Linked DNA regions of Homo sapiens: all the other regions are linked to region 3. The links come from fine-mapping of genetic effects on gene expression. A gene starts in region 3. Each other region holds a variant in brackets. All regions are shown on one strand. Distances are between the middles of the regions.

What was found. PIP is the estimated chance that this variant, and not a neighbour inherited with it, causes the effect. A credible set is the group of variants that fine-mapping cannot tell apart.
Region 1: its variant is the best candidate, but not a certain one, in a credible set for the expression of SHFL in neutrophils (Naranbhai 2015, PIP 0.82).
Region 2: its variant is the best candidate, but not a certain one, in a credible set for the expression of SHFL in neutrophils (CEDAR, PIP 0.82).

What each region holds. Positions count from the first base shown.
Region 1 is chr19:10,146,731-10,149,486 of GRCh38, reverse strand. DNMT1 (DNA methyltransferase 1) reads left to right here. Exons shown (of 41, transcript NM_001130823.3): 26 at 1-34; 27 at 470-603. Among named protein-coding and RNA genes, the nearest start is that of EIF3G, 28 kb to the right of the region's middle. The variant G/TG (reference allele first, on the strand shown) is at 1,371.
Region 2 is chr19:10,122,351-10,125,106 of GRCh38, reverse strand. No RefSeq gene overlaps it. Among named protein-coding and RNA genes, the nearest start is that of EIF3G, 3.8 kb to the right of the region's middle. The variant C/G (reference allele first, on the strand shown) is at 1,173.
Region 3 is chr19:10,085,127-10,087,882 of GRCh38, reverse strand. SHFL (shiftless antiviral inhibitor of ribosomal frameshifting) reads right to left here and starts at 1,566. Exons shown (of 8, transcript NM_018381.4): 1 at 1,435-1,566; 2 at 831-954; 3 at 583-632. The coding sequence starts at 1,455. RefSeq lists silencers at 1,298-1,577, 1,648-1,867.

The sequences.
Region 1 (2,756 bases), 62 kb before region 3:
CTACAAAGCCCCCTCCGAAAACTGGGCCATGGAGGTGAGTGCCTGGTGTCCCTCGTGAGCCCCTGCCTTATCGTGGAGGGTCACTGCTGACGTGCGTTCTGTTTTGTTTTGATTTGTATTTTTTTTTAATTTGGTTTTTTTTTTGTTTTTTTTTTTGTTTTGAGACTGAGTTTCGCTCTTGTTGCCCAGGCTGGAGTGCAATGGCATGATCTCAGCTCACTGCAACCTCCACCTCCTGGGTTCAAGTGATTCTCCTGCCTCAGCCTCCCGAGTAGTTGGGATTACAGGCACCCACCATCACGTCCAGCTAATTTTTTGTATTTTTAGTAGAGACGGGGTTTCACCATGTTGGCCAGGCTGGTCTCGAACTCCTGACCTTAGGTGATCCACCCGCCTCGGCCTCCCATAGTGCTGGGAATACAGGCATGAGCCACTGCGCCTGGCCTGACACGCATTCTTATCTCCCAAGGGAGGCATGGATCCCGAGTCCCTGCTGGAGGGGGACGACGGGAAGACCTACTTCTACCAGCTGTGGTATGATCAAGACTACGCGAGATTCGAGTCCCCTCCAAAAACCCAGCCAACAGAGGACAACAAGTTCAAGTGAGCACTGGGGCTGGACTCGGGGTCAGCAGGCACTTTCAGCCCACATCACTCCCTTTTCCCGTGTGCTTCCGTCTGGTTGGCTTCCGCCAACGGCCCCCCAGTTTGTGTCTCTTGCTCGTCAAAGGCCAGCCTGACTATGAATGATGCTCAAGTGTGTAGATGGCCTGGAGTTGCTTTAAGTGTGTGGATGACCTGGCGTTGTCTTTGTAAGAGGGTTCCCTACCCAGGAACAGGGTTCGTCTTGCCATTTCAAGACTTCCCGTGTGTTCTTCAGTGTGTGCCCAGCTCTTGCATGTTTTTGGCTGTTTCTTAGATATTTTCTCCTGTAAATGAGACCTCTTATTTGATTCTTTTCTTTCCTTTTTTTTTTTCTTTTTTTTTTTTTGAGACGGAGTCTCGCTCTGTTGCCCAGGCTGGAGTGCAGTGGTGCGATCTTGGCTTACTGCAAACTCAGCTTCCTGGGTTCATGCCATTCTCCTGCCTCAGCCTCCTGAGTTGCTGGGACTACAGGCGCCTGCCACCACACCCGGCTAGTTTTTTGTATTTTTAGTAGAGACGAGGTTTCACTGTGTTAGCCAGGATGGTCTCGATCTCCTGACCTTGTGATCTGCCCGCCTTGGCCTCCCAAAGTGCTGGGATTACAGGCGTGAGCCACCACACCTGTCCTCGATTCTTTTGTAACTGGGTGACTGCTTTGAGGGAAGCTTTTATTTTTTATTTTATTTTATTATTATTTTTTTAATTTTTTTTTTTTTTTTTTTTTT[G/TG]AGACAGAGTTTCGCTTTTGTTGCCCAGGCTGGAGTGCAGTGGCTCAATCTTGGCCCACCGCAACCTCTACTTCCTGGGTTCAAGCGATTCTCCTGCCTCAGCCTCCTGAGTAGCTGGGATTACAAGCATGGGCCACCATGCCCGGCTACTTTTTTTGTATTTTTAGTAGAGATGGGGTTTCTCCATGTTGGTCAGGCTGGTCTCGAACTCCCGACCTCAGGTGATCTACCCGCTTCGGCTTCCCAAAGTGCTGGGATTACAGGTGTGAGCCACCGCGCCCGGCGAGCTTTTATTTTTTAATGTCCAATGCCCCATGCCTTCTTTTTAACCTCCGTACCTCACTTGTTTCAACTAAAAGCAGCAGCCAGCACCCCCAGAGGAGCAGGTGGCAACCAGGGAAACCCAGGAGGCCAAGAGGGCTCCCCGGGGGCATCTGTGCTTCTCCCATAAGTCTCGTGCTAGCTTTGGCTTGATCTCTATTTTCATTTTATTTTTTACTTTTTTGTGATGGAGTTTCACTCTTGTCACCCAGGCTGGAGTGCAGTGGCACGATCTCGGCTCACTGCAACCTCCACCTCCTGGGTTCAAGTGATTCTCCTGCCTCAGCTTCCCAAGTAGCTGGGACTACAGGCGCCTGCCACCATGCCCGGCTAATTTTTGTATTTTTAGTAGAGACAGGGCTTCACCGTGTTGGCCAGGCTGGTCTGGAACTCCTGACCTTGGGTCATCTGCTCCCTTCAGGCTCCTAAAGTGCTGGGATTACAGGCATGAACTACTGCACCCAACCTCATTTACTTATTTATTTATCACCCAACCTCTTTTATTTATTTATTTATTTATTTATTTATTTATCTGAGACAGGGTCTCCCTCTGTCACCCAGGCTGGAATGCAGTGGTGTGGTCACAGCTCACTGTAGCCTCGACCTGCTGGGCTCAAGTGATCTTCCTGCCTCAGCCTCCTGAGTAGCTGGGACTGCAGGCATGCACCACCCTGCCTGGTTAATGTTTTAAAAATTTTTTGTAGAGACGGGGTCTCACTGTGTTGGCCAGGCTAGTCTCAAACTTCTGGGCTCAAGCGACCCTCCTGCCTTGGCCTCCCAAAGGGCTGGGATTACAGACATGAGCCACCATGCTGGGCCTTGATCTCTATTTTTAAGGCCATCTTCAAGTCTCCTTTAAGGGCTTACTAGTCAAGAATAATGTTGAATTTCCTCAAATACCTGTTGAGCCTTTATGGAGAGAACAGTAGGAGTCTCTGCTGGATTGAGTTCCTCACTGAGCCACTCGGGACTGTTGCTCGTGGTGTGTTCTTAACCATATTCTAGACCCTGTTCATTGATATCTTAGGGTTTTTGTCTCAATGACTCAAAAGTTGCCTGATTTTC
Region 2 (2,756 bases), 37 kb before region 3:
AAACCCAGGTGTGGTGGCTTATGCCTGTAATCCCAGCACGTTGGGAGGCCGTGGCAGGCAAACCACTTGAGATCAGGAGTTTGAGACCAGCCTGGCCAACTTGGTGAAACCCCGTCTCTACTAGAAATACAAAAATACAAAAATTAGCCAGGTGTGGTGGCACATGCCTGTAGACCCAGCTACTCGGGAGGCTGAGGCAGGAGAATCACTGGAACCCAGGAGGTGGAGGTTGCCATTAGCTGAGATTGCACCACTGCACTCCAGCCTGGACTACAGAGTGAGACTTCACCTTTAAAAAAAATAATTAAAAAAAAAAAGTTTAAATGAGGTCATTAGGGTGGGCCCTAATCCAATATGACTGATGTCCTTAGAAGAAGAGATTGGGACATAGACACACACAGAGGAGGCCACGTGAGGACCGAGGGAGAAGGTGCCCCCACCTCAGAAGAAACCAACCCTGCCGACACTGTGATCTTGGACTTCCAGCCTCCAGAACTGAGAAAATAAATGTGTGCTGTTTAAGCCTCCTAGTCTGTGATATTTTGTTGTGAAAATGTGAGAAAAAGTAACTAATGTTAAGCTGGGTTTGCTCAATTCTGCTTTCCAGCGTAATTTCACAAAGCCCCTGACTCTGAGACACGTGAGACACGTCTGCGCAGCTCTACAGAACAAGGCTTTGAAGACAAAACAGGACAGAGCACAGGGCACACCATGTCCCTTGCCCGAGTCACTATATTCCTTAAATGAGTCTGGGCACGGTGGTTCATGCCTGTGATCCCAGCATTTTGGGAGACCAGGGCAAGGGCATCACCTTAGCCTGGGGAGGTTGAGGCTGCAGTGAGCTGTGATCGTGCCACTGCACTCCAGCCTGGGTGACAGAGAAAGACCCTGTCTCAAAAAAAAAAAAAAAAAAAAAAAGGCGTGCCAGGTGCGGTGGCTCATGCCTGTAATCCCAGCACTTTGGGAGGCCCAGGCAGGCGGATCACCTGAGGTCGGGAGTTCGAGACTACCCTGACCAATATGGAGAAACCCCCGTCTCTACTAAAAATACAAAATTAGCCGGGTGTGGTGGTGTGCATGCCTGTAATCCCAGCTACTCAGGAGGCTGAGGCGGGAGAACCGCTTGAACCCAGGAGGCGGAGGTTGCAGTGAGCTGAGATCGCACCACTGCA[C/G]TCCAGCCTGGGCAATAGAGCAAGACTCCGTCCCCCAAAAAAAAAAGAAAAAAGAAAAAAAGGACCTGGGCCGGGCACGGGTGGGTCACACCTGTAATCCCAGCACTTTGGGAGGCCAAGGTGGGCGGATCACAAGGTCGGGAGATCAAGACCATCCTGGCTAACACGGTGAAACCCCATCTCGACTAAACATACAAAAATTAGCTGGGCGTGGTGGCGGGTGCCTGTAGTCCCAGCTACTCAGGAGGCTGAGGCAGGAGAATGGCGTGAACCCAGGAGGCGGAGCTTGCAGTGAGCCGAGATTGTGCCACTGCCCTCCAGCCTGGGCAACAGAGTGAGACTCCATCTCAAAAAAAAAAAAAAAAAAAAGGACCTGGTTCAAACCTTTTCCTACACATAAAATAACATCTAATGGGGTCAGGGTATTATGCTTCTGTAATCTATAACCAGATGTACTCTTGCACCCAAACCTTGATGTGGCTCACACCTGTGTAATCCCAGCACTTGGCTCATGGCAGCCTCACCTCCTGGGCTCCAGCGATTCTCCTGCCTCAGCCTCCTGAGTAGCTGGGATTACAGACATGCACCAACATGCTCAGGTAATTTTTGTATTTTTAATAGAGATGGGTTTTCACCACGTTTTCCAGGCTGGTCTTGATCTCCTGACCTCAGGTCATCTGCCTGCCTTGGCCTCCCAAAGTGCTGGGATTACAGACGTGAGCCACTGTGCTCAGCCTCTTTCTTTTTTAGAGACAGGGTTTTTGCTCTGTCACCCAGGCCAGAGTGTAATGGCACAATCATAGCTCACTGCAGCCTTGACCTCCTGGGCTCAAGCAATCCTCCTACCTCAGCCTCCCAGGTAGCTGGGACTACAGGCGTGCATTACCACACCCAGCAATTTTTTGTGTGTAGTGATGGGGTCTCAATGATGTTGCCTAGTCTGGTCTTGAACTCCTGGGCTCAAGAAATCTTTCTGCCTTGGCCTCCAAAACTGCTGGGATTATAGGCACGAACCACAGTGCCCAGCCAAGAAATATATTTATATGTTACATCTCACATATATTACATAAATGCATATTATATATTAATACATGTCCAAAAATAATATTTCCTTTCTTGGTGCCTTCTTTCCAAAGCATTCCTCATTAACAGGTTCTGATTCTTTCTTTCCAGGAAATGATTTGCATATATCTGCATATCTATGTGCTGTTGAAGATTTACACAAATTGGTTCCTGTAATATATGCCATTTTATATATCGCTTCCTCTTTTTTTTTTTTTTTTTTTTGAGATGGAGTCTTGCTCTGTCGCCCAGGCTGGAGTGCAATGGCGATTCTCCTGCCTCAGCCTCCCAAGTAGCTGGGATTACAGGCACCCACCACCATGGCCAGATTTTTTTTTTTTTTTTTTTGTATTTTTAGTAGAGACGGCATCTCACCATGTTGGCCAGGGGCTGGTCTTGAACTCCTAACCTCAGGTGATCCACCCACCTCGGCCTCCCGATTACAGGTGCCCAGCCTGTTTCCCTATAACATCTTTACTACCACGGGGTGATATCGAATTTTTGAAGCTTTGCCCAATCTGC
Region 3 (2,756 bases):
GATGCACCTGTGCTTCAAAGCCATTCATTCATTCATTCATTCATTCATTCATTCATTCATTCAACACAAGGGTTCCATTCCCCTGCCTCTCTCTCCTCCCCAATCCTCTGCTCATCCTAGCCTTTCTAGAGACTGCCACTAACAACCCTTCCCCACCTCCCAGCCTTTGCTTATGCCATTCCCTCCCCCACCCCAAGACCCCTGCCTTTCTTTCCCTTTCCCCTCCCAGGGCTCACTCCTCCCCATCCTTTAAGACTTGGTACCTCCTCCTCCAGTAAGCCTTCTCTGACCTCTGCGCCCCCGCTATGATGGCAATAATCCTGGCTCCTTTCATTGCTTAGTTTCATGGCTCTCTCCCCCATTGAATACAATCAGCACATAATGAGCGCCTACTGTTTGCAGGCTCCCTGGCCGGACAAATGATGGAGAGGTGAAAAAGTGAGATTGGGTGATGAGTTATGGACCGACAATGCCTGGTCCCTCCTGTTTCAGAGGGGGGTCAGTCACCATGAACGGGTCGGGTCCCCCCTCTTGCTCTCCCTCCCGTGACCCGGTCCTTTGCGAGGGGAGGGGATAGGTTACCTGGGCATCCAGATCGTTACTTAGTTCTTGGCCATCTTTTTGCTTTACCCCTGCGGGGGAGAGTGCATATAAGGGAAGGGCCCTTGAAGGGTCTGTGGGAGTTCCAGGCCACCCAGAGCCGCGACGCAGAGCCTCCCCAAGGCTGGGACCTCCGGGGGAGGTGATCTCAACGCCTCTCCCTAGACCACGCCCCCTCGGCGCTCCCACGCGCGGTCCCCGCACCAGGCCCGGGACCCCTGCAGCCTCACCGTACACGATGGAGCGCCCCACTCCCGTGTGGTCGCTGCCGAATTTCCTCATCAGAGCCCCCGCCTTCTTGGAGGATACCTTCCCATGAAACTTCTCCCGGAGGCGCCGGACGCTCTTCTCCAGCTGGGATGGAGACAGGGGGGTTCCGGTGGGGGAAGGGGAAACGGGATCATCCCTCCCCCATCTCTAGGCACCGTTCTCCCGGCCCGAACTTGACCCTTGGTTTTGGCCTCCGCCGCCCCCCCCCCGCCTTTCATCCCTTTACGGCATTTCCTGGAAAAAGCCAAAGTCCCCACAGGGCGTTGGGGGAAGGCGCGGACTGGGGCGAGCGTCCCAGCCTAAGGTGTGGGGGGGCGGCCAGGTTATCTCTGGCCTCTGACCTTTGACCCTGCAGCCCCCGCTTTTCCTCGGGGAGGCCTCATTTCGCTCTGGGGAAACGTGGGAGTCACTTTCCTTTTCAAGGGGGGCGAGCGCCAGGCAGGGGTAAGGATCTGGGGTTCTAGGATGGGGGTCCCCAGGAACTGCGAAGCCCCCTCCGCGCCTCCCGGCCGCTCCTCGGGGTCTGTCGCGGCTGACCCCGGCCCAGCCGTAGCCATCGCTTACCTCCACACCTTCCTGAGACATGGTGGCGGCGGCGCAGTTCCCCGCGAGGGTCCGCACTGCGCGGCTCAGCCGCCCCCCTACCTGGGTGCGCCCGTCGGTCCAGCAGCCGCGCAGGGCAGGGGGCGGTGCCTCGGGGCCGGCTCCGCCCTTCCTCCCCGGCCCCTGTTTCGCTTTCGATTCAGGGGGGACCCGGCGCGCTGGCTCCGCCCTGGCTCCGCCTCTGCTCTTGCGCCCCAAACCCAGGCGGGCGCCCCGGGTCTGCACCCTGCGGCGGAGCGCGCAGACCTCGGACGGGGGAGGCGGCGCGGCCTCTGCAGTCGGTCACATGTCCCCACGCTGCGCGGGGTCCGCGTCTTCACGTCCCTCGTGGGGGCGGGGCCGCATCAGAAGGCCGCGGCGAGGCCCCGCGCCCCCCCACCCAGCGCGCGCTCCCCCAGTTCATCACCCTCCTCTCTGTTCTCCCTCCTTCCCCGGGAATCTGGCGCTCATGAGGACCTGGGCCCTTTTCCTGCCCTGAGTCTCTGTCCTAGCTACGGTCACCTCTCTCAACCTCAGTTTACCCCTCTGTGAAATGGGGAGAATCCTGGTGTCTACACCATGGAGTGGAGTATGTGCCAAGATTCCCGAGTGGATCGCGTAATAGCGCCTGGCTTGCAGTAGGCGTTCAACTAGTCACTGGGCCACCTGCTGTGTGCCCTTGATAGGGGCAGGCAGTGTGTGTGTGGTTGGGGGGAGCGGTGCTTGAGAAAAATACAGATTCTTGGTCTCTAGTAGCCCGGTAGAATCCGGCTGTCTCAGGGATCCAGGGAATCTGCAATGGTTAAGAACCCCGTGGGACGGACAATTCTAACCCAGTACAGGGCACATCAGGGAGCCCTTAGGTGGTGGGGCTCTGGCCCAGCCTGGGGACACAGAGATGGCAACTTCATTGGAGGAGGGGATGCTTTGTAGAGTCACTGAAATTGGAGGTCTTAGCTAGGGGAGGAATAGAGTGGGGAGATGAGGCAGCCGTGCAGAGCCCCCAAAGCAAGACTAAGTCTGGGGTTTTTGGGCAATGGCTTCTCAAGCCCAGCACTCTTGACACTTTGGGCGGCCTAGTTCTTTGTGTGGGGGACTGTCCTGTGTATTGGGGGACATTTAACACCATCCCTGGCCTCCACCCACTAGATGCCAGTGGTTCCCTACTCTCCCTGTTGTGACTACCAAAAACGTCTCCAGAGACTGCCGGATACTCTCTGAGGAGCAAAATAGCATTGTGTTCAACGACTCCAAATTTTTTTCTCCATTGCACACCCCTATAGGTAAAAGTGTTAAAGTTACAC